Homo sapiens: one gene and its partners. The protein of the gene in region 1 interacts with the protein of each later gene in a biochemical or structural test. Each region holds a gene or a part of one and is shown in the gene's direction. Other genes may lie near its edges.

Evidence for each region. Proteins that work in one complex are often made in the same cells at the same time.
Region 2: the proteins of FGFR2 (region 1) and FGF5 interact in a test that uses a peptide from one of them, tested with the Homo sapiens proteins (one study listed by BioGRID).
Region 3: the proteins of FGFR2 (region 1) and CCN2 interact on a protein array, tested with the Homo sapiens proteins (one study listed by IntAct).

The regions. Positions count from the first base shown.
Region 1 is NC_000010.11:121,497,438-121,504,459, reverse strand, and holds part of FGFR2 (fibroblast growth factor receptor 2 isoform 1 precursor), read left to right. Parts: intron 1-518; coding exon 519-670; intron 671-3,512; coding exon 3,513-3,634; intron 3,635-5,854; coding exon 5,855-5,965; intron 5,966-7,022. UniProt on the Homo sapiens protein: Tyrosine-protein kinase that acts as a cell-surface receptor for fibroblast growth factors and plays an essential role in the regulation of cell proliferation, differentiation, migration and apoptosis, and in the regulation of embryonic development.
Region 2 is NC_000004.12:80,262,299-80,269,670, forward strand, and holds the start of FGF5 (fibroblast growth factor 5 isoform 1 precursor), read left to right. Parts: upstream 1-4,365; 5' UTR 4,366-4,526; coding exon 4,527-4,881; intron 4,882-5,969; exon of another isoform or gene 5,970-6,270; intron 6,271-7,372. UniProt on the Homo sapiens protein: Plays an important role in the regulation of cell proliferation and cell differentiation. Required for normal regulation of the hair growth cycle.
Region 3 is NC_000006.12:131,948,366-131,955,314, reverse strand, and holds the start of CCN2 (CCN family member 2 precursor), read left to right. Parts: upstream 1-3,942; 5' UTR 3,943-4,142; coding exon 4,143-4,208; intron 4,209-4,322; coding exon 4,323-4,545; intron 4,546-4,771; coding exon 4,772-5,023; intron 5,024-5,154; coding exon 5,155-5,366; intron 5,367-5,754; coding exon 5,755-6,051; 3' UTR 6,052-6,949. UniProt on the Homo sapiens protein: Major connective tissue mitoattractant secreted by vascular endothelial cells. Promotes proliferation and differentiation of chondrocytes. Is involved in the stimulation of osteoblast differentiation and has a critical role in osteogenesis.

The DNA.
Region 1 (7,022 bases):
CTAGAACTCTTTCCTTGAGATATTCCACTTTACATTTCCAAAGACAGAGGAAATATGGTAGAGCCAATTTCCTAAAAGTTTTCGTAGAATTTCATAAGCACAGCATTGATCCATGATCCGGGTGGTCTGAGAGGGGATCCATTATCCAGGGCTCCAGTACAGGTGCAGGTACAACCATAAAGGCACTAATGAAGCCAGAGAGGACTGTCTGCATGTCCTCAAGTGACTCTCTGGAGGAATTAGGACAGAAAGAAAATTTACATTGTGATCAGATGGTATAGAAAAATTTCATAGAAAAACCTGAACATAGGAACATAAAATTTGGATGAAATCTGGTACTGCATGGACTGGAGGGCAGAGGAGTTAGATTCCAGTGGTTTTCTAATTTGGTTTCTGACTTCTGCCAGCCCCCAACCCATTCCTTTCTAAGATTCGATACTCTGGCTGGGCTCTGGCTGACTTCCAGCCTTCTCAGATGGAGCCAGGATTACATCTGTGTCTTTGCATTTTGTATCCAGGTTTCGGCTGAGTCCAGCTCCTCCATGAACTCCAACACCCCGCTGGTGAGGATAACAACACGCCTCTCTTCAACGGCAGACACCCCCATGCTGGCAGGGGTCTCCGAGTATGAACTTCCAGAGGACCCAAAATGGGAGTTTCCAAGAGATAAGTGAGTACTTCTCTTGGCCATGTCCCAGGATGGAGACTCAGCTATAAATGGGGATATTGGATTAACATTTTCTTTTTATGACCCTTAGCCACAAAGGTCTTGGTGTGATGATGTCAGCAGGAGTAAGATTGTATTTCTAAATAACCAACTCCTGGAAAAGAAAAAAATGGATTTAAAAAAAAAAATAACTCCTTGAAAGCAGAGCTACTTGCCCCTGGCTGGTCCCCAAAGAAGATGGCATCTGGTTATCATTTTTTAAGTGTCTGGGCAATTCAGACTCCGTCAAATGGAATAAAAGTAGAATTATCCAATTTATAAAACAGATCTGACATTCTAGCTTTTGGTTACTAGAACAAGACTGTTCTCTGTTCACTTCTGTGGAGAAATTAGATGCAGAATATAAATGGCCTTAAGGACCGCTACCCAGTGTTGCTGTTCTCATTGGTTATTAATGTCATATTGGGCTGAAAAGCTTCAAATATGGTACCTGACATCTAATTTCTGTGATCCATAATATTTTCCTTGTTGGATGATACAGAGGTGTGCCAATCAGATGTTTAGTCAAAATATGGCCACCTGGGTGGTGTTGGGGCTACGTATCTCTTGGTCTCGCTTGAACTCCACGTACTGGAGCTCCGTTGGGCTGCATTTGAATCCTGGCTTTGCCAGACAGTGGCTGGGCAACCTCGGGTGAGGCACCTGATTCTCTGAAATTCATTCTCATAAAATGAGGGTGGTGGTTCAGACCTCCCAGGACTGAGCAGAGTTCTTGGCTTGTGCGAGTTTTCCTTTCATTTCCCTTCACGTGGTGGTAACCTGGGAGCTCTGAACTGCAAACCTCAGCAGGATCATCGTGTGGGGCATGGAGTCAGTGGGCAGAATTTGAGCTCCTAGCCCTCGTCCTCTAGGCAGGGACCGACCCCTAGATCCTCCTTATGAAAGGAAGTGCAGTGGTCATTGTAGGGCTGTCCACTCACTTCTGGGGTACTTTTTGTCGTCACAGCTTGAGAGTACGGGAAGGTGGAAATGCTGACTACTTCTGCATCACATACACTGGAATAAGCTCTTGACTTGCTTATAAGCAGCTACCCTGTTTGCCTTGACATTTTCAGTAGCTCCTCAGATTATATACACTTCTCATGTGTACCTATACACATTTGGAAATGCAAAGATAAGCTCTTCCAGAGACTGATCTGATGAGCTCTATTTGGAAGGGAGAGGTAGCTTATGTGGCTGGCACTTCTGATTTTGATTCACGTGATGTCACATCAGTTTTGTTTCCCAAGTGCCAATTTAGAGATGTGTACCGTTAGCTAGGACTGAATAATTGTATGGATATTATTTGGTTAGAGTGTTAATGGAAGTAATTTCCAGTTGATTTGTATACTGTAGTGAAAAGACCACTCACTCATTCACTTATTCATTCACTCAAGGCATGTTAATTGGACATTTACTGGTGGGGCACCAGAGAAAACACAAAGAATGGTTTCTTTACCTGTAGGATGTGGAGAAATGGATGTTTCTTGTGAACTCCGCCAGCCCTAGTTTGTGTGTGATTATATACACAGATAGGTTCATGTGCACATTCCTATATATATAACTGAACTGGGGAGTTGTGATCATATTTTAAGAAATTGCAGCTTTCGGGTTTAGTCCATAGTTTTTGCCACCTGTGACACCACAGTCAACAGTGGAAGTCTGTATGTGCCCAACTGTTACCTCCCACCCGGGGTACCCTGAGTGTGGAAAATCTGAGTGCTAAACATTTCAAAACAGTGTTTAGCGCAAACGTAGGTGGAACAGATTTCCAATGAATGAAGGCTATTTAGAAGCAGTTTATTAGATCGGAGGCAGAAGTTATACAAAGAAAGGATTGTTATGCTTGTAGTAGCAAGGCGGTGGGACATAAATTAGCCATTTTTCCAATGCAAATATTTATTTTCTGCCAAGATGTTAAATTTAATTTTCGTTCTGGGTAGAAACAAAATGACCTCAGCATAGCACATGCTGCCCTTAGTCTTTATGCTGCACTTTTGCAAACTATTGTGTACTTACCTTAAATACTGTTTACTAATGGCAGCTCCATGCTTTGCTGTGTTATGCTTAAGTTAGAAAGAGCCGTATTCATAAGTATTCCAAAGACTTTTGCGTTTTGTTGGTTTCTGGAATGCACAAGGACAATATATGGCTATTCGTCCGATGTGCATAGACCTTGTAATCTTAGAAATTTAATTTGTGGTGTTCACTTTGGATTTTCTTCATTGTTAATTTTATGTAGTCATAAGGACTTTTAAACTTATGTCAAAAAAAAAGTCCCCAATTTTTTAGAATTTTCTTTTTAGTAAAAAATTAGAGATTCCTTGAAATGCTTTTAAGAGGCATATCCTGTAACTTGGCAAGGAATGTGACCATAAAATCCATTGGTATTTGAATAATAATTTTAAAGCCACCATTTTACAGGGACAAAAAAATAAGAACAGTCTTAACGTTTTTTCTTTGAGCCATTCTAAATTACAAATATTTAATTGGCTCAAGATCAAAAGCTCTTCTCTGGCACTTAGGAAAGCTGACCACCGCACTAGCAAGGATACCTTCCCTAAAGAAAATAAACCGAGAATACCAATGTGAAATTTAATAGCCGTTCCACCAGTAATTGACATTCTCTAAAACGTCACTAGGAAAATACTCAGGCGCGTGTGTACCCTAAGTCTCATTAGTTCCATATGATAAGCACTCCATGCTTTAGTAAGCCGCTGAAAGATTTTTATATTTAGTTCTGGAATTTCCCTCACTACACCCCATCACCAGATGCTATGTGCTAATCCCCTATTTACACATTTAGGCTGACACTGGGCAAGCCCCTGGGAGAAGGTTGCTTTGGGCAAGTGGTCATGGCGGAAGCAGTGGGAATTGACAAAGACAAGCCCAAGGAGGCGGTCACCGTGGCCGTGAAGATGTTGAAAGGTGAGCGGGGAGGCGGGAGGCTCGGGGAGGGGCTGGGTGGAGAGTCTTATCAAGAAAGTTCCTTTTGTGGCATGTGAACTCTATCATGGCACGGGGTCAGAGAGCACATAGTTGACCTAGGGGTTGAGAAGTTTTCGGTATAAATCAGCATCTCGGACAGACTATTTATCTTGAGCTGTGTGTACTTATAAAGAAAAGCCAGTTTTGTTAGAAAGCGGTAGCCTCCTACATAGAGTTATTCTTTGACTCCTTCTTCGTGACCACAATTCTTCATTCTCTCTGTATTTTTATGTGCTTAGAAATTATCAACTCACATATAATTGAATTTATTAGCTAGGAGTTGGTGTGTTAGATTTGGGACTTAAACCTTAACTTTACAAGTACAAGAAAATTTGTGTTTTTGGAGGGAACGAAGAGACGTAAGGGAGCAGAAAGCCTTCTCTTTTGCGTGAGGAACAAAGCAGAAATGACACTGGTCTGGGAGAGTCACTTAGAAGCTGAGAAGGAGTGAACAGGATCAGGGCTGGTGCAGAGCCTCCTGGGACACATAAACAATTACCCTGAGATGTAAATGTCGTGTTGTGTTTGTGGGACTGTGAACACTTCTACGTTAACCTTCCAACCCTGCTTCATGCCCATGTCCAAAGAACTTAAAGAACTTTTAACCATTAACTTATTCGTCCTGCAGTATTCTTTTATGAGAAGAGTTATAGGGAACTGTCACATTATAAATCCTCTTGTAGGGATCTCGGAAAGAAGATCCCATGCCGAGTGTTTCCCACGTTTCCAGGCAGAGAGGCCCATCCTTGGGATATGGTGCTGGGCATGTCGCAGGCGCTCTGGAGTTAGGCTTTGTCTTTCTTTTGTGGGTTCTCATGGGATAGTCATCACATCCCTCCCAAGGGGAAGTAGCAGGCTGGACTTTGTCAACAAGATGTGCATTTTGTTTTTTGGGTTTTTTAAAAGGCTGTTTATCTGAGTGACTCCCAAGGAAAACTAGAGTGCTTTGAGATGTTCCCCACCTTGGAGCCTGATGCCGGGGAGGAACACTGTGCTGTCTTGCCCCAGGTGTCATGGCACCACTGACTGAGGCAGCCCCTGGCTGCGTACCAGGGCCAGGTGTGGGGAGGACCCAGGCTTCTCATCTCTTTTGGCGGAACTTCTGGTTTTGCTAATGGAGCTCAGAGTTACATGGGATATTGCAAAAAGGGAGGTCTGGGAGTTCTCTTTCTCTTGTGATGCCCAGGCTGGCAGCCTTCCCTGTAAGGACACAGAAGGATATTAGTCCCCAAGCCATTGTGGCGTGTCCTTTCTTACAGCCCACGGCTGTGTCTCCCTCCCTCCTCATGGCCCGTGGCTCCCTCCTTCACATACATCAGTGTAAATTTTGCACACACAGTCACTTGTATTGATCTTCCTTTTGTGAAGCTAAAAAACTGTTTGCAACATGGTTCTTATCCATGCCCATATTTCATTTTTTTTTTAAAGGAAACCCAGATTTTTCCATACTGAATTAGCTTGAGGTGGAGGGCACATGGGAAAGTCTTGCCACTTAGGAGAATCTAAGAGAAGCTAACTGCGAGCCCGCGTATGTGGAACCTGTGCCATTCTTGCTTGAAATTACAGAGCGGAAGTTTATGTAACTTTTCTTAGGATGGGAACTGCAGTGCCCTCTGAGAAGCCACTAGAAGTCGCAGCCCTTTACCTGCTCAGAATGCACATGCACACACGTTTATGGCCCTGTTTATGGGGAACCGTCTGAACCCACCTCGGAACGCTCTAAGGGCCTCGAGGGGCTGGGTTAAGAATGCTTGGTCGGGAGCAAGTCTGTAGTGATTTGAAATGGCCCTACCCTCGGTCTCCTCGCTGGTTTCAGGCACCATGAAGTTTGGTGTGGTTTTCTGAGACGCCTTAGATATGGCAGAGGATGAGATTATCTCATGGTCTAGGAAAGAATTGGCATTAGTGTCAGAAGCCCCTGCTCTCGTCCTGACTCTTGGCCCCATTGGCCCCCCAGTGAGCTCTTTGACACAGAGTGAGGCAGTTCCCTGTGTAGGCCTTTGTCCCTTCCTCGATAAAATGAGGGAGATGATTTGGAAAATCTTTTCTGATTCTGAAATTCAATTTCATGCTGTTTCAACTAAGTCTTTGGCAACTAACAGTAGCTGCCCATGAGTTAGAGGAAATGAACTGATTTGTGAATATGCCTACTGTTCATAGATGATGCCACAGAGAAAGACCTTTCTGATCTGGTGTCAGAGATGGAGATGATGAAGATGATTGGGAAACACAAGAATATCATAAATCTTCTTGGAGCCTGCACACAGGATGGTGAGTAGGAGGAAAAACTGCATTCGCCCAAATACTCTGCAGTTTGATTGAATCATTTTAGAAATGGCTGGGCTTCCAGATCCTGCTCCCAGAGCACCCTGTGTGCATGTTTAAAGTTCTTTTTAAAATCCCCATTGGAAGATGTTCCTAGCCATGAACACAAAGAAGGGTCTGTGCCCGTACCTGGGGGCCAGTGGAAAGGAGGGTGCAGGTGACTTTGGATTTGAGGGCCTAGAGGGCGCTGCTGTTTCTAGGTCATAACCTGGAGGGGGTTTTGGAAAAGGCAGCCTCCTTATGTTTTTGTTTTGTAAGTGCTAAGAGAGATTTGTCAGAATAAGATCCTATGTTTTGGTTGAGAAGTTCTTCCCTTAAAACAGGGATTGAAGAATCCACATCTTGCTGTGGGTCACAGATGGCTGAGCTCCCAAGAATAGCTTAAAAGAGGAGAAAGCGGTATGAAGGAATACGTTATTTTCCCTGGGGGAGAGAGACCCTGGCTTCTTCCATTGAATGTTTACTGGCACTTTGAAATCAATTTGCTAAGTAATTAGTAAACTTGAAAACGCCTATCTTTGACTTAGCAATTTCTCTTGTAGGTCTATATAGTAATTGGTGAACTTTTTCTGTAAAGGGAGGTCGTAGATATTTTAGACTTTTGTGGGCCGTATGGTCTTTGTCGCAACTTCTCGTGTCTGCCATAGTAGTGAGAAAGCAGTGCTAGAAGTACAGAAATGAATGGACCTGGCTGCATGCCAATAAAATTTAATTACCCAAACAGGCGGTAGGCAGGATTTGGCTTGCAGGCTGTAGTCTGCCAACCCCGAGCCTATACCATGGAGAAATTATTGCACACGTGTGTAAGGGAACATGTACAGAGATGTTCATTGCCTACTGTTTGTTATGGCTGAAACCTGGAAGCAAATGCCTATGCATATAAGGGAATGGATAAATAAAGTGTGGTGTGTTTATACGATACAGTATATGCAGCTGTGAAAAGGAATGATCTGGTTTTGTTTTTATAAGCCCAACAGGTTCCAAAAGGATAATGTATGGGTAA
Region 2 (7,372 bases), on another chromosome or scaffold:
TTCTGTCTTAGTTGGCTTGGGCTGCTATAACAAGACAACCATGGACAGAATGGTTTAAACAACAAACATATTTCTCATGGTTCTGGAGGTTGGGAAGTCTGCGATCAGGGTGCCAGCATGGAGGGACTCCTTCCTTGTTTCCTCATTTGAGGGATTGGGGTTGTGAGAGGAAGAAAGCTCTCTCCTCTTTTTATAAGGGGGAGGCAGAGGGGCATGCACTAATCCCACCTCATGACCTGATTAACTTCCAAAGCCCCATATCCAAATACTATCACATAAAAGAACAGAGTTTTAACTTGAATTTTGGGTACCCAAACATTCAGTCCATAGCAGTCTCTACTAAAAAGTGTATGCAATTAGAGGCCACTGTGGGGCTCCCAGGACCTGATTAACAAAAGATAGTACTATCTGGGTATAGCCTGAGAGTATGAAAGGGTGATAGGAATATAGAGTTGGGTAGGGGTGGGGTGCAGAGGCTTTTGGGACCATGTTTGAAACAGCTATCCCAGGAAAGCATTCTAAAAATCCTTGGGTTTTCTTTGGATCAAACAAAGAAAATTTGGCCTTGCCTTCAAACTGTACAGTCATCTTAAAGCTCAGAACAGGCAAATTTCTCATGGCACCTGCACCTCCAGGAGTGGAGATTTTGGGGTAACTGAGGCTCTTGGAACAGAAGTCTGTGTAAGATCAGCCTGGCACAGTGGCAGCCTGGTTCCTGGGTCAGACAGCCTCCCAGGACAGTGGCTTGCATTGCCAGGGTTGTTCATTCTATTCCATCATCTATCTCTTGTCCGTCCTTCCAACCCAGCATGAGACATTGTAGGATGAACAGTCTTGCCTTCAGGACCCTTGCCTCAGTGAGGCCTGGCCTCAGTTTAAACCCAGGGGAATGTTGTAAATATTGAGACGGTCTCTAGAGTGAAGGAAATATTGGGCTCTGACTTGACTTATACACCCTGACTTCTCTTTTCTTAGGCTTCTGGGTTCCAACCAGAGGTTACCGGTAACTTTATCTTCTTTTGCATTGATTTCTGTCTCTAGTAACCAGATCACACTTGTAGTTACGAAAGGGATAGGGGAAATTCACCACCAGTTTTCCACACAGAAATAGGGGAGGCCTGGAAAGAAAGTTCAGATGCTGGGGTCCAGGAAAAGTGACCCTGAGGGGGTTGGTCTAGGAAATGTGAGGCCTAGTGGGGTGAGACACCGCTGAAAGAGAGCTCAAGAAGAGGGGGTGGGGACCTAAGCCGAAGCCCGCGCACTCACTGCCTGGCGCCTAGGTGACTGGTGGAATCTGCTAATCTGTTGGGTAGTTTTTCCGTCGTCTGTCAGGTGGCGATGAGTGGAAACTAATCTTCGGGGCCGTTTGTTTTACCTCTGCAGGAAGCAGGGCGCTTGCGCCTTCTCCCAACCTTGCTTTCCTGGCTGGGAGAACGCAGGAATTGGAGAACTGAGCTGTGGGCTCGAATCCGCGCATGACCTGGAGATCTGGACCAAGCTCCGAGGCTTAATGGGGAAAGCTGAGATGTCCCCAGCAGGGGGCTTTGGGCGATTAACTTTTCGGAAAGTCGCCAGAGAAAGTGTGGTGCAGGCTTGCGCTCTTTTGGGTGGAGTTCACAGGAGTAGGGCTCGAGGTAGCCAAAACAGTAAATTGAGATAGCTCCCCGCCCCACATTCCCCACTGCAGAATTGCTGTGGACAGAGGCTCTCGAAGATCGGCTGCTCAGAGTGGTAGGCAGGATGTAGACCAGGGCGGGCGCAGCCCTGGCGCATAGCGCGACCCTTTCGTCTCTCAGCTGAGCTGCGGAGGAAGGGGGCTTGGCAGCTCAGCTCACGGAACAAGCGCAGTGCTGTCTTTCATGTTTCACTGTTCAGTTTTTGTAGCTTTTTTTAATGGCCCCAATACATAACTCTCTTGTGAAAAAAAAAGTTTAATAGCATCCACCCTACACACTTATGATCACCAATGGAGATTTCCTTTTAAGCCCCGAGTATGTGGGCACATTCGGCTGCCCGCCCAACCCCCAATCCTCCCACCCCAGTATGGAAGACAGTCGGGCGTTGAGGACTGGTTTGCCAAATTCAATCACTGTCCACAACAGCTGGTCACTTGTCTCCTTTTAGTGAGCCCCTGACTCTTTCTAAGCCCTTGGAATCCAGAAAAGTGTATCTTGCCATCCTCCAGTTTGAGGTAGACTAAAGCCTGAGCAGGTGTCTTTGCCTTCCTGGGTCATCCCTAGGCAAGGATTTGATCCCCAGTTTGGCTCTTGCGGGAGTTGAGAGGGAAACAAGGATGGTTGTTTCAGTGCAGGCGGGGCTGCAGAAACTGAGAGAAGGGAGCAAAGACAAGAGGCTGATAACAGCTCCAGAAACTGGACTCCAGAGTCCTCTTGACCTCCTGGGTTTAGACAGGGGGCTGATAGTGCAGCTGGGGCAGGAACCACTCTCCTCCTCTTTCAGCAGACTCCTTGGGAAAAGGAAAGGGAGAAACAAGCAGCTGGATTTGCTTTGGAGAATCTTCGTCACTTGAGGAATGGGCTGTGTATTTGCGTGGCATGGGGGAACTTACAAATGGCATTCAGCAGCATCAATGTGGCTTAAACCCTGACAGCTTTGCCACAGACCTCAGGGCATTGCCTGAAGAAGGAACAGCACCCAGGTTCAGAACCATCCTACAATCATCCTCCCCAGAAGAAGGTGATTTCAGTCAAGTAGACCATTCTGAGAGATACTGTGACTGTTCTCAATGTCTACTTTTAGGGTTGCCTTGTAAGGATCTGCCTACCCACCCTAGTTAAGGGAGAAGTATATAACTTGAGCCTAGAACAGTGGACAGGGGGTGTGTTCAGCTCTGGACAGTATCTCATGTAGTGTGCCCATGTTATGCACATCTATGTGTGATGTCCTCTTTCTTTATCACAGTGGTTTTACTACACTTTCCAGGTAACCTTCTGTTTTACAAGTACTTTGATGTTACTCTGGCGGTGGAAGATTCCAAACCTGAAAAATCTGCATTGTTTTATATGCGTTTCATTATTGAGATGGAAAACCTTAAGTAGGTACTCAATAATGGGTAAGGCCGTTTCTTAGCTTCAACCTTGGTTCATCTGAATTGACCTTATCAGTCAATAGCACGGGCCGTTTCATTAAAATAACCAATGAATAATGTATCATAGCTTAGTTTAAAGTTTCAAATATGTTTTTAGACAGAAACATTCCAAGCATGCAAGTCAGGTGTATTTCCCAGATAAATAACAGTCTGGGGACGTTGCCCGTACAGGGAAATTCTCTGTTCTCAAGGAAATTTTCCCTTCTCGGGTTTCCTGAGGTTGAAATCCAGCGCGCACGTCATTAATCATTCACTGAGGTCGGTCCCTCAGTCAATGGCAGGTCTGGGTAAGCTAAAGCGAGCAGTTAGCTAACCCTTCCTGCCACGGGGATCCTGGGGCGAAAGAGGACAACTGGGCGGTCAGTTACATGTGCTGGTGTCCAGCCGCTGCCTCTCTTTCCCCGGTCGGAGCGCGGGGGTGCGTGTGCCCTCACTCTCACGAATACAGACGGAGAGCTTCCCAGAAGGAAAAACAAATTCGTCATAATGTTCAGCGCAGCCGAGAGTTTCCAACAAGAAAGCAGCTCCAGTCGTGGCATGATGACTCAGGGTGGCGTTTTAAACGCTGAATAAACCCATTCCTTAGCTCTTTAATAAATCGCTAATAACAGCAAAAACAGCCTTCTCCCCGAACCGCGCCACACCAAAGGCTTCCCAAGTTGGGCTGCGAATCCCTGTTTGGTTTTCCAACGCCGAAAGACGTAGAAGCAGTGGGATCTCCTGGTGGGACGCATTTCTCCAAGGGCTCCCAGAGAGAGGACGAGATAGCAGGGTTTACAGGGCAAAGAGAGGAGAACCTGGAAATCGTGTCCTGGGGGGCAAGAGTGCGTTGCCCAGTCACAAGTGTGCTGTAGAGGTGGGAGAGGACAAGGACCCATTTCCACATTTCAACCCTCCGTTTCTATCGCTGCCCCTGGAGGACTCAGCTGCTAACGCCGAGCTCGTTTCCACGCGGCTCTGGTCCTAGTCGGGGAATCCGGGTGGCCGCGCGACGCGAGAGAACTGCTGGGATGCGTGGCCCTGGTATGGGCGCACCCAGCGTCCGGGGCGCAGGTTCTCTCAGCCCAGCTTCTCCTCCCACTCACTCGCTCGGATCTCCTCCCTCCTTCACATCCCCCGCCCCCGGGACCGCGAGGCTCCCTCCCCGCACCGGCCAGTGAGTACACAAAGCCGCGGGTGAGGGGAAGCTTCGCAGGCGTGCACGGAGCAGTGAGATCACTGGCGTTATAAATATCCCGGTGCCAGCGCGGAGATCCGCTCGGGTGGCCTCTCTCTTCCCCTCTCCCCTTCTCTTCCCCGAGGCTATGTCCACCCGGTGCGGCGAGGCGGGCAGAGCCAGAGGCACGCAGCCGCACAGGGGCTACAGAGCCCAGAATCAGCCCTACAAGATGCACTTAGGACCCCCGCGGCTGGAAGAATGAGCTTGTCCTTCCTCCTCCTCCTCTTCTTCAGCCACCTGATCCTCAGCGCCTGGGCTCACGGGGAGAAGCGTCTCGCCCCCAAAGGGCAACCCGGACCCGCTGCCACTGATAGGAACCCTAGAGGCTCCAGCAGCAGACAGAGCAGCAGTAGCGCTATGTCTTCCTCTTCTGCCTCCTCCTCCCCCGCAGCTTCTCTGGGCAGCCAAGGAAGTGGCTTGGAGCAGAGCAGTTTCCAGTGGAGCCCCTCGGGGCGCCGGACCGGCAGCCTCTACTGCAGAGTGGGCATCGGTTTCCATCTGCAGATCTACCCGGATGGCAAAGTCAATGGATCCCACGAAGCCAATATGTTAAGTAAGTTACTCGCTCTCCTACAAAACCCGTCCTAGGCGGCCGCGGAAGATTCGGGAGGGACAGCAGGTATTCGCCGGGACACAGGCTCACCTTCCTGAGCCCAGGCCACTGGGACCAAGCTGATACTCAGAAACAGCCGGGCGGGTTGGGTGGAGATGCATCTATATGGCGTGCGCACACGCACCCCTCTCCTGGGCATGAGGAATTGCGATTTCTCAGGTGTATGTTACCTAGAGGCTGGTGCCCAGACGGGTACCTTGTTTTCAGTTTGCTCTAGCCTCAAAGACGAGTCCCCAGCCATGACAGGAGAGAACAAAAAACTCATTTCTTCTCACTCAATTTGTTTACCTTCTGCTTATGAACTAGCCTGGCATTTTTCATTAGGCATCAAAGGCAGCCCTTCTCCCTATCCATAACTGAAGTTATTTTTTGAAAAGAAGAATCAAATCCCAAATACTTCCCTCTTCCATCCGCTACCATAAACCTCAAATTAATATTGTATATGTATATGTATATATGTATATAAGTCTATGTATACAATGTATACACATAGGTAGATAGATAGATAGATAGATAGATACACAGATAGATAGACAGACAGATAGATAACTAGGGGACACCAGACAGACATTCCTGCTTGGAAGAAGATTGTGCTCTAGAAAACTGGACGCGTTTAGAGAGGGAGACATGATAAACATTGAAATTACTAACTCCAGAGTTGGATTTAACAATGTTTAGTATCTTGAGACCATGACTACACCGTATTAGGAGAGTGGCCAGCCTTTGGTCCCCAAGAACAGTTAGGGGAAAGTTCCTTATTTTAGAAGAAACGCAGAGGTTAAATTTGGTAGGGGTGCAGATTTTGTAGGACTTTTTATAAACAAAGTTTTAAATTTTCCCTCTGAGTTTTTTCTTTCAGCACGCTCTCTTTTTTCCTTTCTCATCTCCTCTTCCCTTCCACCCCATCTATGTTTCCAGACCATCGCAGCCACTCCTCTGGTTTCTCTTCACTGCCTCTAGGCAGCTGGGGGCAGGGACGGTTTGGGGCTGTGAGTAGGAGTGGGGAGATCTCTGTGGGGCTTTTGCTCAGTAGGGCCAGATCGCTCTTCCAGCGCGGGTTGGTCCACCAGGCAGAGCCCCAGCCAGGGCCTGTCAGGTACCCAGGGAGACCGGAAATGTAGCCAGGAGACAGCAGCGCTCACAGTCACCTGGTTTCAGTGTCAGCCTGGTTGCTCCTAGATGTTCCTAACTTGCTCCATCTCAGACCAAAGACTCCACGGGCCATTGGGCTCCTTCTTACACAGGCTCCAGAGGAGCGTGGACACCACCGGCGGTCTGAAGATTTGGCAGCCAGCAGTCTCCAGAGGGGGGTCGGAGGCGCGCAAGTGGGTAAGGCGGTAGGCTGGCTAGCCTCCTCCGGTGGGTTAAGGGGGCCTAATGCGGAAGACCTGATGGTTCATGCTGAGAGAAAAGCAGGTCTATGCCCGCCCCTCTGCGCCTGTCTAGTCTATCTGATCGCGCTGATTCAGCAGCCTGCGGCGCACGTGGTGAGGGCGCCTGGAGCGCCCAGCTGGAGAGAGGGCCCTCCGCACACGCACCAGCGAGTCCCAGGGCCTCCCTCACACTCCCGAGAGGAATCTATTTCCATATTTTAGAGTTTATTTCACTCATCGAATAACTGCTCATTTGGGGGATAAAGGGCAAGATCTGTTGGGGTGAAATGGAATTTTCTGAGATTTGAGGAATAATCAGTAACATCTATTTATTTCCATTCGTCCTTCTCATTTTGTCTCAACGGTCTTTTGACTCCATCAGCCATCACAGCTTATTCCCACTTCCGGCAACCTTTCCTTCTCTCTTACAAGAAAACTTTCTTTCTTCTGTTCTTCTTGTAACGACCCGTGGAGTCATTGGTCTGAGATGGAGCAAGTTAGGAACATCTAGGAGCAACCAGGCTGACACTGAAAGACAGGTGACTGTGCGCGCTGCTGTCTCCTGGCTATGTTTCCACTCTCCCTGGGTACATGACAGAGCACCAACAGAGGATAACTTCCGTGAGCTCAAGGGCGGACCCCAAACTAGCAGGCAGCAAGCAGCAGGTTGGAGCCCAGGGAGCTCAGAGAATGCTTCTGGGGAGGGTTTAGGTGTGCTAGAGATCTCAGAAAGCAAGGCTCATTCCCAGGATATTCACCATCTTCTCTACGAAGACACTATATGAGACGAAGGTAGTTTTACAGCTTAGGCCTTGCTAGAGGGGGTGTTGTAGAAAAGCAAAGGGGGGAAAATAAGAGCAGATCAAAAAGAGTGCACCCAGATAAACAAGACATTGACCACTACCCAGTATGTAACATGTACATTTTCTTTTAAAATCCATGTTGAAAGATATCTACAAGAGAACAGGGATGTTTCCTAAAACAGTGCCGACAAAAAGCTTAATTTAAACTTTTTCCTAATTTATTCTTGTTTACAATAACCTTTCAGAGTTTAGTTT
Region 3 (6,949 bases), on another chromosome or scaffold:
ATATCCTAAGAAAGTCAGAGAACTAATTATAAGGAGGAAAAGGCATGAAGGTAATGAATGTAATTTAGATAGTAAACATCCGCGTTTATCTTCCCCGCCATGAACTCCCAGCAAGTACGCCCTCTCCTTAACCTTCATCTTAAGCAAACAGGAGGTCATGTCAGCCAAACCAGGGTCCCTGAAGATTTCAGAATAATATTTATTACTATTTTACAAAAGGCTTCTGGGATACCATTTTTTTTTGTAGAATTAATTTACATGATTGAATTTGAGGCACGCTAGAAACATCAGAAACCTCCCCCTGACCCACCATAAGGACAAATCGCTCACTGTCCAGATGCCCATATACGGCCAGACTTCCTCCTATAAGTCTGACAGCTCCGTGTATGCATTGCGTATGGGTCTTGGCTCTGAGTCACATTCCTCCGGCATGTTTCCCTGGGAGCTTTGATTTCCGCTTTGAGGGCTGGCACTGACTCCTACTTGCTCTTATAAGAAAATGTCTACAACTAAAAGTTGAAAATGTGCAAGATTCCTTCTTTAAGTACACAAACACTCCAACTCTGGCCACTTTTCTGTAGTCCTGCCAGGTTTTCTCTGTGTCTGATACCTGATCAAGAAACCTTTTTTTTTTAGGGAGGAAAAAACAACAAAAAACTTAAGGGAAGGAATGTAATACATCCACAGCTGAACATCTTACAAGACTTAACCAAACGACCAGTACAAATGATGCCCTAGTAGACACACACACATACCTTATATAGCTTGGTAAACAGGACTCAGTGGCCAGCTTAGTTAATTCCTCATTTTACCACGAGGAAAAAATGCTCTCTAAAAAGCATTTGCTAGATAAATACTTGCTTACAAGTCAAAATTAGTGCATCTTAACCATTTTGCACACAAATTCAAAGATCTTTTTCTCCCAACTCTGACCTGCTGTCAATCAAAGGGGCTGGGGTAAGTCAAAGTTGGATGAAGTTATAAGAAGCCACTATTTCCCACTTTACCGCCCAGGCACACACAAACATTTGCTGAGTCATTGATAATAGTGCAAGAATTCAGATCCCATGGCATGAATTATGGATGGAGTATCAGCCTTTCCCTTTGAGTTTCCTGGCATTTGATGGTCCATATCACAATAAAAACATACTTCTGAGTCTGTGAATGTCTTGGGTGTCTTCTCTCATTCTCTCTCTCTCTGGGTGTGTGTGCATGTATGTGTCTGTCTGTCTCTGTGTCACTCTCTTAATAATAGTCTTTTAACTCCTTCAAAAAGAGTTTTGATCATAAAGCCTCAATCTAACCTGATAATGCACAGAAACTTTTTCTTTCCTGAGATTTCATATGTTCTATATATTTCAATATGCTTATTTCCTCTTAAGCAACATTAAAATCATCTATTTGGAACTGACTATAGATTTTTTTGAGACTTCGAGGGACTATGAGAATTTTATAGTAAAACCAAATTCTTTCTTTTGACATTTTTAACAACAGAGCAGAATGGTAATATACTTATTATACACAGAGATTGAAAAAAAATCAAGAAAATCTGAAAAAAATAAAGCACCAATTCCCTGGAATTTTCATCTACTCAGCCCTCACTGAACCCTATTAAATTAAAAAAATTATGATTACTTTCATTTTTTAAACAGAAATGGGAATATGGCTCCTACGTGTGACTTCCCTGAGATCTGCGAAAGGCAGTTCCAAGAATACAACCTAGGCCATCTAACTATAACCCAGTACAACAATTTATCCCCTCCATGAATGAGTCTCCCTGCTGCAGGCATGAAGATGGTGGTAGCTTTCAGACTCTCCTGAGGATTCAGAAATTCCCCAACCCTTCTCCCACCTACCTCACTCTGCAAGCTAGGAGAGCTCACCACCAAGCCCACATCCCACCTTAGGTGAGACTCGCACTGCACATCCCTACCCTTCCCCAGCCACCACACCTTTCCAACCATTAGAGGTAGATGTAATTGGGGGTTTAGGTCTTGAAAGGTTTCACTGTGGCTTCCCACATATTTTGGACTTTTAAAATCATCCACAAGGGAAGAAAAAGTTGAGGGCCAAGTTGCCTTTAATACACATGTGGCTATTAAGTTAACTTGGAATGTTCCTTCTTTAAATAGGAACTCTTAGGCCTCTTCTTTTTGAGGAATGCTTGGAAAGGACATTAAATAACAATGACGAAAATTCTTCCTGAGCTTCAGAGGGCACCCCCACCCCTTTGCTGGCCATTCACACTATTGACATGCAACTACACTCTATAACATGTGGCTGGCTTAACGAGGTAATCGTGCACAGATGATATGCTCTATGCTGAAGTTGGAGTGGTTATATTTCTTCTTGGCTATTTTTCAACAGACTGTACTGAAACTTTAAAAATTTGATCAGTTTAAACAGGCTGTTTTCAAATGATAAATCTATAATGCATTGTTTCTAAAGCCGATCTTTGCACCACAAACAGATATGCTTATCTTGAACCCATGCTCTGAAGCATCAACAACTTAAAGGAATCTACTCATTGGTAACACCAATGTCAAATGATGCGGCATTACAGAATACAAAAATGGTATGGCCCTAGAATCACTCTCTTTATATAAAATGGGAACTGGAGGTATTAACAAAAAAGCCACTAAACAACATAGATTCCAAATGAAAGCACAGTGAATTAGTTGGGTCTTTAGTGAAGCTAAGTAGCACTATATTAAGAAATGGAGATATGCTTAGGTTTATTGGCCATATTCAACATCTGCACACACCCAGGGAGAATAAAGCCTATTCTTTCCTTGTCCTGACCTCACTCCCTCAGGCTGCATGTTCCTTGGGTAATGAGAAGTCACAATCACTATTCATAGATGTGTGGGGAGTCACTAAAAATATATTATTCACTGTCAATCTTAGTTTATATCCAGATACAACAGGGTACACTGCTCTTGTAATGGAATCAGACTTCTTATTTTAACAAGACAAACCAAATCCAATCCACATTTGAAGATTATAGGTTTTAATATAAGAAAATGCACTCATTTCTCAAAGACCCTAGTGAAGCTGTGTTTAAATGCTCCTAGGTGAACCCCCTTTGCATCCCAGTGTTCCCACCCTGACACCCAGAGCCCCTACCTACCCAACACAGAATCATTTGCTCTGATAGAACAATGGATCCCTTTTTCTGGAAACATTGATGGCCACTCCTCCCTTGTCCTTGCCTATATAAAACTCCTACATATATTAAGAGAAAACTAAGCAAGAGTTTTGGAAATCTGCCCCAGGAGACTGCATCCTGAGTCACACGCGTCTTTGTTCTCTTTCTTGTCCCAAAACCGTTACCTCAAGTGACAAATGATCAAATCTCAAATATAGAATTCAGGGTTTTACAGGTAGGCATCTTGAGGATTTCAAATGGTTAAAAGCAACTCACTCCTTTTCTACTCTTTGGAGAGTTTCAAGAGCCTATAGCCTCTAAAACGCAAATCATTGCTAAGGGTTGGGGGGGAGAAACCTTTTCGAATTTTTTAGGAATTCCTGCTGTTTGCCTCTTCAGCTACCTACTTCCTAAAAAGGATGTATGTCAGTGGACAGAACAGGGCAAACTTATTCGAAAAAGAAATAAGAAATAATTGCCAGTGTGTTTATAAATGATATGAATCAGGAGTGGTGCGAAGAGGATAGGGAAAAAAAAATTCTATTTGGTGCTGGAAATACTGCGCTTTTTTTTTTCCTTTTTTTTTTTTTCTGTGAGCTGGAGTGTGCCAGCTTTTTCAGACGGAGGAATGCTGAGTGTCAAGGGGTCAGGATCAATCCGGTGTGAGTTGATGAGGCAGGAAGGTGGGGAGGAATGCGAGGAATGTCCCTGTTTGTGTAGGACTCCATTCAGCTCATTGGCGAGCCGCGGCCGCCCGGAGCGTATAAAAGCCTCGGGCCGCCCGCCCCAAACTCACACAACAACTCTTCCCCGCTGAGAGGAGACAGCCAGTGCGACTCCACCCTCCAGCTCGACGGCAGCCGCCCCGGCCGACAGCCCCGAGACGACAGCCCGGCGCGTCCCGGTCCCCACCTCCGACCACCGCCAGCGCTCCAGGCCCCGCCGCTCCCCGCTCGCCGCCACCGCGCCCTCCGCTCCGCCCGCAGTGCCAACCATGACCGCCGCCAGTATGGGCCCCGTCCGCGTCGCCTTCGTGGTCCTCCTCGCCCTCTGCAGCCGGGTAAGCGCCGGGAGCCCCCGCTGCGGCCGGCGGCTGCCAGGGAGGGACTCGGGGCCGGCCGGGGAGGGCGTGCGCGCCGACCGAGCGCCGCTGACCGCCCTGTCCTCCCTGCAGCCGGCCGTCGGCCAGAACTGCAGCGGGCCGTGCCGGTGCCCGGACGAGCCGGCGCCGCGCTGCCCGGCGGGCGTGAGCCTCGTGCTGGACGGCTGCGGCTGCTGCCGCGTCTGCGCCAAGCAGCTGGGCGAGCTGTGCACCGAGCGCGACCCATGCGACCCGCACAAGGGCCTATTCTGTCACTTCGGCTCCCCGGCCAACCGCAAGATCGGCGTGTGCACCGGTAAGACCCGCAGCCCCCACCGCTAGGTGTCCGGCCGCCTCCTCCCTCACGCCCACCCGCCCGCTGGAAAAAGAAACCGCTCGGACTGAGTTTCTTTCTCCAGCTGCTGCCAGCCCGCCCCCTGCAGCCCAGATCCCAACTCGCATCCCTGACGCTCTGGATGTGAGAGTGCCCCAATGCCTGACCTCTGCATCCCCCACCCCTCTCTTCCCTTCCTCTTCTCCAGCCAAAGATGGTGCTCCCTGCATCTTCGGTGGTACGGTGTACCGCAGCGGAGAGTCCTTCCAGAGCAGCTGCAAGTACCAGTGCACGTGCCTGGACGGGGCGGTGGGCTGCATGCCCCTGTGCAGCATGGACGTTCGTCTGCCCAGCCCTGACTGCCCCTTCCCGAGGAGGGTCAAGCTGCCCGGGAAATGCTGCGAGGAGTGGGTGTGTGACGAGCCCAAGGACCAAACCGTGGTTGGGCCTGCCCTCGCGGGTGAGTCGAGTCTTCCTCTAAGTCAGGGTCGTGATTCTCTCCCAGGGAGGGAGTCCTAACTGTGCCGACCGAACGGGGGAAATACCTTATCCAGGCGTTTTACATGGTGTTTGTGTGCTCTGCTCTCGCAGCTTACCGACTGGAAGACACGTTTGGCCCAGACCCAACTATGATTAGAGCCAACTGCCTGGTCCAGACCACAGAGTGGAGCGCCTGTTCCAAGACCTGTGGGATGGGCATCTCCACCCGGGTTACCAATGACAACGCCTCCTGCAGGCTAGAGAAGCAGAGCCGCCTGTGCATGGTCAGGCCTTGCGAAGCTGACCTGGAAGAGAACATTAAGGTACATGTTCTGCTCCTATTAACTATTTTTCACAGGAAAAACAGTGGATAGGACCCAACTTAGGGCTCTTGCCACGCTTGTTAGTATAAGCCCGTTATCTCCAAAACTATCTAACCATTGAGCTGTTTTGCTGGAATGAGAGCTTGTGTAATAGCAACCACCAGTTTTCCACTACGAAATCTTCCACAGGGTTAGTTAATTCAAGACATTCCAAGAGAGGCTCTGGCTATTTTTGGACATAGCAAATGAGACTCAAACTTCCTCCCCTCAAAATATAAACAGAAGTCAGACAACAGAAGACTAAAACACAGAGGGTTGAAGAAAGCCACTCCTCTTGTAGAGTCGCTGATTTTTTTTTTTCCTCTCTCTTTTCCCTTGTCTTCCTTAGAAGGGCAAAAAGTGCATCCGTACTCCCAAAATCTCCAAGCCTATCAAGTTTGAGCTTTCTGGCTGCACCAGCATGAAGACATACCGAGCTAAATTCTGTGGAGTATGTACCGACGGCCGATGCTGCACCCCCCACAGAACCACCACCCTGCCGGTGGAGTTCAAGTGCCCTGACGGCGAGGTCATGAAGAAGAACATGATGTTCATCAAGACCTGTGCCTGCCATTACAACTGTCCCGGAGACAATGACATCTTTGAATCGCTGTACTACAGGAAGATGTACGGAGACATGGCATGAAGCCAGAGAGTGAGAGACATTAACTCATTAGACTGGAACTTGAACTGATTCACATCTCATTTTTCCGTAAAAATGATTTCAGTAGCACAAGTTATTTAAATCTGTTTTTCTAACTGGGGGAAAAGATTCCCACCCAATTCAAAACATTGTGCCATGTCAAACAAATAGTCTATCAACCCCAGACACTGGTTTGAAGAATGTTAAGACTTGACAGTGGAACTACATTAGTACACAGCACCAGAATGTATATTAAGGTGTGGCTTTAGGAGCAGTGGGAGGGTACCAGCAGAAAGGTTAGTATCATCAGATAGCATCTTATACGAGTAATATGCCTGCTATTTGAAGTGTAATTGAGAAGGAAAATTTTAGCGTGCTCACTGACCTGCCTGTAGCCCCAGTGACAGCTAGGATGTGCATTCTCCAGCCATCAAGAGACTGAGTCAAGTTGTTCCTTAAGTCAGAACAGCAGACTCAGCTCTGACATTCTGATTCGAATGACACTGTTCAGGAATCGGAATCCTGTCGATTAGACTGGACAGCTTGTGGCAAGTGAATTTGCCTGTAACAAGCCAGATTTTTTAAAATTTATATTGTAAATATTGTGTGTGTGTGTGTGTGTGTATATATATATATATGTACAGTTATCTAAGTTAATTTAAAGTTGTTTGTGCCTTTTTATTTTTGTTTTTAATGCTTTGATATTTCAATGTTAGCCTCAATTTCTGAACACCATAGGTAGAATGTAAAGCTTGTCTGATCGTTCAAAGCATGAAATGGATACTTATATGGAAATTCTGCTCAGATAGAATGACAGTCCGTCAAAACAGATTGTTTGCAAAGGGGAGGCATCAGTGTCCTTGGCAGGCTGATTTCTAGGTAGGAAATGTGGTAGCCTCAC